Regions from separate parts of the Homo sapiens genome. Here region 2 is linked to region 1. Evidence: fine-mapped expression QTL. A gene starts in region 1. The other region holds a variant in brackets. All regions are shown on one strand. Distances are from middle to middle.

Region 1 (4,370 bases):
TTCTGGTGCACACATCGGGATGTGAAGTTGTACCCCATGTCTGCAGCTTGGACCTCACCACTGCTGTGTCTGGGCCGCAGGGAGCTGTTCTGGCACGTGACTCAGCCGTGGGATGTTCGGGTGACTTCCTGTCTGAAACCTGCTCTCCTGTTGGTGAGGGATTCTCTGGGTATGAATCGCTTTGCTGGGGTCAGAGCAGGGAGAGCCATCTCCCTGACGGGCTTCTCAGAGACAACACCCCAGGTGCCGCACAGCCCGGGGCAGCCTCCACTGGTCCCGAAGGCCCGGTGGGAATAGGCAGGGCCAGTCCACACCCCCAGGCTGTCAGTGTTTGGACTCCCAGGCTCCTGCCTGCCCTCCACCCCAGCCTGGCTTCTCCACCTGGCAGGGGCAGGGGAGCCGGTACACGGCTGCCAACCCCCCAGTTCATACCCACAGCTCCTGCCACCCAAGGGACCCAACTTTCCTTTCCCAGACCCCAGTGAAGGACCCAAAGAGAGGATTCAACTGACCTCACTTGAATCGGCTATTCCCGGACTGCCTGGCAAAGGCCAGAAGGCATGGAGGGTGACAATGGCCTGAGCCGGGTCCGCATGTCACTCCTGGACCCCTCACCGGGGGCGCAGAGGAGGCCTGGTGAACGTGACAGACCACCCAGTGGGGCGCAGGACGGGGCAGGTCCTAGGAGGCTGCTGGGGCCAGCGACAGGAACCCACAGCTGTCCCTGGCCATCACCCCCACTGGCCTGATGTGGGCTTCGTCTATTGCTGCTCCGAGGGTGGGGCTGCCCTGGCCCAAAGACCCGGGAGGCCAGTGACCCCATGAGCAGTGGCCTGTGGAGGCGTGTGTTTGCACCAGATCCCCTAGAGGATCACTGTCCCCTGGGCAAGTGTTTCTGGAAAGCCAAGGTAGGCCCTGCCCTGAGACCTGCGCCTCCCCGCCAGGGCAATGGGAAAGCCCAGCTTTCCAGGGACTCCACTGCCACCCACACAAAACCCTCTGAAATCGCTGTTCGGAGGCAGCCTCCAGCCATGCGGCCCTGCAGCAGGGGGCAGCTGTGATCCACGTGTCTGGGGGAAAGTGTAGACTGGGGGCTCGGCCTCCACCGGCCTCTCCTGGCCGTGGGTGTACCCACCCAGGATGGCGGCTTCTTCGCTCAGTGACCGTCCCTGCTGCGGTGCTGGGCAGTGTCGCTTGGAGACATTTGTGGTCCCCAGCTCCTTCCCTCAGCCCGGCCCTGTCCCCACTGCTGAAAGAGCCTGGCTTGGATGGAGCTTGGCAGGCTCGGGAGTGGGCACCAGGGTGGGTCTGTGCCCTGAAACTCAGAAGCAGCCTGGAGGTGAGTGGAGTTGTAGGTGCTGTCCACAGCCAGCTGGCTTTGTCCAAGGAAACTGGGCCCATCATGGCCGGAAGCCCCACAGTGAGGGGGACTGTCCCAGGCAACCCTGCCTGCCCACCCTCCAGTTCCCACAGGGCCCCTCACAGAGAAGCCCACCCGCAGGGCTCCTGGGCCAGGCCAGGCTTGGTTCTGGATGCAGGAGGGGTTGAGGTAGGGCTGGGGGAGGAATGTGGAGTGTGCAGTAGGCTGTTCTTCCCACACGGCCCTGCCCCATGTAGGAAGAGGGAGGCGGGGAGGGGAGGGTGCTTGTGTGCAGTGGCTGTGCCGAGCCTTCCAGGACATGCAGGTGCCATCCTGGTCCCGGGGCTGCAGTGGGCGCACTCAGCCTCTCTACTCCTGGCACCCCGGACAGGGACTCCTGGGAGGACACAGCCTCTGGGAAGTCACCCTGCTCCGTGCTTGCCTGGCCCGAGAGTGGGCAACACCAGGCCTGAGCTGCAGAGGAGCTGGATTTTGTCTTTCCAGGACCCCTCCCTGCAGCCTTTCCAGGACCCCTGTCCTGCCTTGCCTGTCTGGGGACACACGGACAGCCGCTGTGCCGCGCCAGGCCCCAGCACCTGCCTGGGAGCTCCTGAGTGAGTGGAGCCTGGCTCTGAGTGCTGCTATTGCTAAAAGAGGTAAGACTGGGGTTTCCTGCCACTCCCTCCCTCAGGAAGGTGACGAGGCCATGCTGTCATCACCAGTAAGATACCCCAGCCCGGTTGGCTAACCCCTAGCTCAGCCCTGTTTGTGGTTAGGGGAGTTCTAGACAGAACATAATTAGACCCCTGCTACTTCCTGAAACCTCAGCTAGGACTGCAGGGAGGGGTGCGAGGCTAGCCACGCAGGCGGGGCCCTGGGTAAGTCGCTGGGCTCTGCGTGCTGGGGAGTGGGCCTGGGGGGCCAGGCTCTGGGATGGGGCTGGGGGCTGGGAGCTGGAGGCGGGCAGAGGGGGATCTGAAGGCAAAGGTGATTTGTTGGTAAAGATGGAGGCTTTGTTGAGGGTTCTTAATCTGGGGTCCCTCCCGAGAGAACCCAGGACCCCCAGTGACCACAGATGTGATGGGGCCGGAGGATTTGGGGGAGAGGGACAACAGTTTCCATTGTATCTTTGTCACCGCCACCTTCCTGGAGACTTTCTTCTGGAAAAGGCTTCCCTGGCTACTGGTCCAGATGGGGGTGAGTCAGGGGGCTGGACTTTGTCCCTGGAATCTCTCCTTGGCCACTTGCTTCCGTGATTGGTCGGGGGGCACTGAAGGGCTGGGCTTCTCTCTGTGGGGCCTGTGCTGCTTGTGGGGTTACACAGAGGGAAAAGCAGGGCAGTGGGGGCTGTGCTGCGGTGAGTGGCAGTTGGCCCAGTCACGTGACAAGATCCTGGAGCTGGGCAGGTCACCGGCCTTTGGAGTGGCGTTCGGCGCACCAGGCACAGCGGGGCGGGGGGCCCAATACCTTCTGTCAAGTGCATGACGTGGGTCTGTACCACTGCAAGGGACTGGGACTGACCACTGAAGACTGGCCAGTTGGGCTGAGCACAAAATGATATTTCAGGAGATTGGCCAGGCCGAGGTGGGAGAGCAGAGGCTCCTGGAAGAAGATGAGGATAGGGGCTGGGCACGGTGGTTCATGCCTGTAATCCCAGCACTTTGGGAGGCCGAGGTGGGCGGATCACTTGAGGTCAGGAGTTTGAGACCAGCCTGACCAACATGGTGATACCCTGTCTCTACTAAAAATACAAAAATTAGCCGGGCGTGTTGGCACACGTCTGTAATCCCAGCTACTTGGGAGGCCGAGGCAGGAGAATCGCTTGAACCTGAGAGGCGGAGCTTGCAGTGAGCCGAGATCGCGCCATTGCACTCTAGCCTGGGCAACACTATCAAATTGGGAAAAATAAGAAAGTTGACAATGGGCTTTGGATGGGTGTGGTGGAGCAGGGAGGTTGGAGCTGGTGACTCCACATTTCCCTCCCTAGGGTTTGTCTCAAACGTGACGGCAGAAAAGAGGTCATAGGTTTGCCTGGTGCCAAAGCAGGTGGGAGTAAAAGACGGAAATGGCTAGGAATGGCCAGCAACCGTGAAACAGCTTAGAAATTACAGGCAATCCAGCCAGGTGCGGTGGCTTACGCCTGTAATCCCAGCACTTTGGGAGGCCAAGGCAGGTGGATCACCTGAGGTCAGGAGTTCGAGACCAGCGTAACCAATATGGTGAAACCCTGTCTCTACTAAAAATACAAAATTAGCCGGGCGTGGTGGCACACGCCTGTAATCCCATTTACTTGGGAGGCTGAGGCAGGAGACTCACTTGAACCCAGGAGGTGGAGGTTGTGGTGAGCCGAGATCGTGCCATTGCACTCCAGCCTGGGCAACGAGAGCGAAACTCTGTCTCAAAAAAAAAAAGAAAGAAAGAAATTACAGATAGTCCACAAGACAGACCTCAGCAGCCTGAGGAGCTGTTTTTGACAAATGGGCTGGAATGAGGAACTGCTCCCTGCACATGGCAGGGGCCAGGGCTCCTTCTCTGTCCTTTTGTGTCTGTCTGAAAAGTTCCATCATAAGTTACAAAACAGGCTGGGCGTGGTGGCTCACACCTGTAATCCCAGCACTTTAGGAGGCCGAGGCGGGCGGATCACCTGAGGTCAGGAGTTCAAGACCAGCCTGACCAATATGGCGAAACCCCTTCTCTACTAAAAATACAAAAAATTAGCCGGGCATGGTGGCAGGCGCCTGCTAATCCCAGCTACTTCAGAGGCTGAGGCAGGAGAATCACTTGAACCCGGGAGGCAGAGGTTGCAGTGAGCCAAGATCGTGCTATTGCACTCCAGCCTGGGCAACGAGAGAGAAACTCAGCCTAAAAAAAAAAAAAAAGTTACAAAATAGATTTTAAAAGACTGGAGGAGCACAGCAACTTGCAGGCCAGAGAGCTCCAGGGACAGTGGCTGGGTGAGGTCATGCTAGATCCTGTTATTGAAATGTCCATCCCAGGAACATGTGGTGCT
Region 2 (4,370 bases), 280 kb after region 1:
CTTCAGGGGTGATGTGGTCATTGAGATGAGAGGGGACGGGTATGCCCTGTGTGTGAGGGGTGGGGTGGCAGTGTCTGCAGGCTCCTTCTCCTGCTCCTTGGGAGGTGAGCGTCATCTCTGGGAAGTGGCCCAGGCTGCTTTCTGTTGTTCTGATGTGTGTGCTCTGAGTCAGAGGAGCTTCAGGGACAGAAGGGACCGGGCATGGGGACACAGGAGTTCCGGCTGCAGGCCTGTGTGGACCTGTGGCTGGACCCAGGCGAGGCCTCTGGGTCTGCACATCTAACAGGGAGATGGTTCCTGGAGGGTGAGCTTAGGCTGTTAAGGGCAGGAGCTAGTGAGGAGGCTGGTGGGGCCTATAGGGACAGGGGGCCAGATGTCCCCTCCTGTTTCGGCTGTCTCACTGGATAAGCAGCCCAGCTCAGCTCTGGCCATTGGTGGTCTGGTGGGCTCAGTGTTGCTCAGACGTTTGCATTTTCAAAGATTTGTTCTGTTGTGTGAAGTCTCCTGATTTTTGAAGGCTGACAATTTTAAAAAATCAATCCTGGGCCAGGGCGCAGGTCTGGCTGAACTCGGCCTCCAGCCTGCAGTTTTCCTTCCTTTGATAGCTCCGTGCCAGGCTTTGGCCAGAGGCTGTGTGGCTCTTTTGAGGTACTTTCCCCAAACAGCTTGCTCACCTTGCCCGCTTGCCCCAGTACTCCTGGGGCCGTGCACCAGCCTGGCTGCAGCCTAGCCCCGTGGAGAGCTGCCCTGGTGCAGCCCCGGCCTGGAGCCTGTTTTTGTCCACTCGCGGCTGTCTTCCTGAGCGTCCCCCCGTCCACATGGCTGGACCAAGTGGGTCAGGAGAGGGCCGAGGCGGGTGGCCGGGATGCTGGGACCCAGGATGAGGTGCTCTGGGCTCTCGAGAAAGGGCTGGGCCTAGGCCAGGAGTGGGTGCCGGCCGCAGGGGCACCACCTGGACTCCCTCAGGCTGGTCGCTGTCCGAGAGGGGCCGGGGAAGAGCTGCAGGCCTGGCTGCCTTCGGCAGGCTGTGACCCAGCAGGCCAAGGCCGAGTGGGCGGGGGTCGAGGGAAGCTGCCTGGGGCGCGTGGGTTACGCGGCAGACGCTCCTGAGTGTGTGGGCAGCGTGTCCAAGCCACGGATCTGGGTGCCTGGCCGGGCCCGGGTGACACGGGACCGTGTGTCCATGCGGCTCACGGAGGGTCCAGTCTCCGGACATCTGAGTCCTTGCCATGCCCTACCCCGGGCCCATGCCTGGCATAGACCCCCCAGTCCAGGCCTCAGGGCAGCCCCCTCACCACTCCTGCTGAGTTAGCCCCAGGCGTCCCGGTGGGGAGTATGGAGGCTGGTCTCTGACCCCAAGCAGGTGCCTAGGCTGGGCCTCCTTCCCACCCCCTCTCCCCGCCTTGAAGTCCTGGCACTGGCTGTCCCTGCGGGGGGGCACTGAGGCAGGGAGAGAGTGGTTCCTACCCCAGTGTGTTACTTCGCTTTGGTGAGCGACATAGAACCTCACTGCATCCCCAGCTGCTGCTCAGCCATCCAGCTGGTCCTGGGGTCCCTGCGTGAGGTGGGGGACCTCAGAGGGTACAGGCCACTCCCCTTCATCCTGGAGGAGGCCTTGGCTTTGCTGAGTAAACACCCTTGAGAAGAGGTCTGTGGGGGACTCTGAGCCCACTCCAGAGAGCAGCTGCTGCGGAGGGCCCCGCAGGGCTAATTGTTTGTGTGCAGATGGAGGCTGCTCATTACCCCGCCAGGATGAGGGGCCCAGCAGGACCCTGAGGGAGGGAGCCCGCAGACTCTCCCCTCAGCCTGTGGGAACCTTTGGGCTCCAGGCCAGGGCTGCCTGTGCCTCCTGGGCCTCAGTTTTTCCCAGGCTGTCAGGTGAGGGTCAACCCCAGGCTGCGTCTAGGTGGCTTCAGTGTGAGACCCGCGGGCCCTGGGCTGGTTAGTGCCAAGCTCTGCCTCCCCTGGGGGAGCGTTGAGGGTCTGGAACGGCCCCCGTGGGCAGGCCAGGGACAGAGATGGGGAGGCAAGTGTGCTGGCTCCTGGTGGGAGGGCTGGGCAGAGAGTGGGGGTCCCAACAGCCCTGGGCCTACCCGGGAGAGGGGCAGGAGGCACAGGCTGGTGGAGGTCATGGCATGGCTGTGGTGGAGGCCGCCAGCATCAGGGAGGTTCCTGTTTTGGGAGCTTGTTGAGTTCTCACTTCAAAAACAACAAAAGAGGAAGCCGAGGTGGCCTTGAGTGGGGGTGAGGGGTCACTGCTGGCCCCAGCCCTGGACCTTAGCCCCCACGCCTGGTGGCTCCTGAGTGGACAGCTCTTCTTCCTGTGTGTTTCTTGGTCACTGGCCCTCTCTGGGCAGGGATGCCCTGTGGGGGGCTGGACTCCGGGAAGGGAAACTGAGGCCCAGGAGAGTGGACAGAATGTGGGTGGAATGATTCCTGTGCTGGGGCCTAGACCCCCGTACACCTTCCACTCTCAGGAGAAGCCTGGCCGG[G/A]TTGCATCAGGCCGGGTTCCTAGAAGTCCTGCACGAGGCTGAGCGGAGGGAACTGGCGCGGCCCCCGCTGGCGTCCCCTCTGCCTGGGCACACCCGGCCCGGCTTGGGGCCAGCACCCTGCCCTCGGGCCCTCCCATAGCTGAGACTGGTGGCTGTGGCTGTGGCTCTGGGCCTGCTCCCCAGGCCACCCTGGGTGGGCAGCTGCCTGCTGCTTCTGTCTGCTTGGACCATTGTGCCTAGTCCCATGGCCTCAGGAGAAGGTTCCCCCAGCCCAGCGCTGGGGCCCCGGGCAGGTTGGCAGAGGGCCCTGGGGCTCCAGGCCAGGATGGGGCTGTTAGGCGAACCCTAGGCCCCTTACTTCCTCATCTCCAACGGGAGTTCCCTTCCCTGCCATGCCGCCTTTAGGTGTGTTTTCCTTGAACCTTAAGGAATGATAGGTTTGGATTTCAGAAACGTTGGAATTGAGGGGGTTGGGAGTTCATGGGTGACTCTGCTGCCAATGTTGCGGGCTTTGGGGTGGGATCCTTGGGGCGCTGTGTTTGGGCTCACACACCCCCCAGGCGGGCCCGGTGACTGCAGACCCCACCCATACCCTGTAACCTGGCGGGCCCACCTGCCCAGGCCCTCAGCTGGTTGTCCAGCTCAGGGGTGGAGACACCCCCTGGGCAGGCCTGGCGGGGAGGTGGCTGCTCCCTGGGCCTGGAGAATGCAGAGAGGCCCTTCGGCTGGCCAGGGTCTGGCTGGCCTCCCCACAGACTGGGGCCAGGGGCACAGCAGCCAGGTGTAGGGCGCGGAGACGCTGAGCTGCACAAGCTTGGTGAGGTGTGGGGTGAGGCCACGGGGGTCAGGGCCACAATGTCCCAGCAGGCCGGGGGATCAGAAGGAGCACCCTCCACAGCTGGCCGTGCTCTGGGGGCCCTCCTGCCCCAGGCGTGGCTCCAAGTTGGGGCAGAAACAAGATGGTGGGGAGATGGAAGGCCCCTCTGTGGCGGGTGCTTCCCATGGTCGGTGTGGAGGACGAGGTCCCTACTGCCTGGTTCCAGTTCCCCCAGCAATGCAGGGCACTTTTCCTGGGGTGTCAGGGATTGAGAGGCCAGCACTGGAGCCCTTCAACCGCCAGGGGCCCTGCCCAAGAGAGACGGGAGGAGGGAGGGGCTGTGGGCATGGCTGCGTGCCCCCGGCCGAGCCCCGGAAGGAGCCTGTGCCCGTGCCCACTTCCTTTCCCGAGGGCAGTGTCTACACGTGGGACACTGTGGCCAGCCCTCCCTCGCAGCAGGCACTGTGTGCTGTCCCCATGCCCAGCTTCCTCCCACGCAGGGAGCGAGGGTGAGGGCCCTGGGAACCCACTGGGTGGAGGGCACTTGGCAAAGCCTGCTGCAAGTTATGGGGAGAGTGGGCGGGGGCAGAGTAGGAGGCGCCAGGGAGGGGCTGCAGCCTCATCTGCAGGGGTCCTGAGTAGGCAGGGTGGGCCATGACATGGGTGGGGCTTGTTTGGGGCAGACCAAAAATGAGGTGGGGGACAGGGACAGGGACAGGGTCTTGGGATGTGCTGGGCTCTGCGATGGATGGGTGTGTGGCAGGTGGGGTGCCTTTGCCGGCCCGAGGGGTGGGTGACGGGCAGTGCCTGTGGGGGAGGACATCCAGGCCCAGGTGGTCTGTCAGGGGCAGCACCAGGGAGGCCCAGTACCCCACCCAGTAGAGCCCCAGGAGAATGGAAAGCTGAGACCCAGGTGCTTCCCTGGAGTGGCAGGAAGAGAGGCCCCAGCGCCTCCGGCTGTGCCTCAGCGAGGTGGACGGGGTCATGGTGGTGCCGCCTGCCCGCACCATGTTCCTCCCGGGGTGTGTGTGTCGGGCTGAGGCCTGCTCCATGGTGGAGCG

What was found. PIP is the estimated chance that this variant, and not a neighbour inherited with it, causes the effect.
Region 2: its variant is fine-mapped to the expression of GPR132 in sun-exposed skin (GTEx, PIP 0.96).

What each region holds. Positions count from the first base shown.
Region 1 is chr14:105,063,247-105,067,616 of GRCh38, reverse strand. GPR132 (G protein-coupled receptor 132) reads left to right here and starts at 2,187. Exons shown (of 4, transcript NM_013345.4): 1 at 2,187-2,238. RefSeq lists enhancers at 1,039-1,108, 1,319-1,488, 1,164-1,681, 3,359-3,498, 3,609-3,708 and 1 more.
Region 2 is chr14:104,785,739-104,790,108 of GRCh38, reverse strand. All of the region lies in intron 3 of AKT1 (AKT serine/threonine kinase 1), which reads left to right. Among named protein-coding and RNA genes, the nearest start is that of AKT1, 7.8 kb to the left of the region's middle. The variant G/A (reference allele first, on the strand shown) is at 2,493.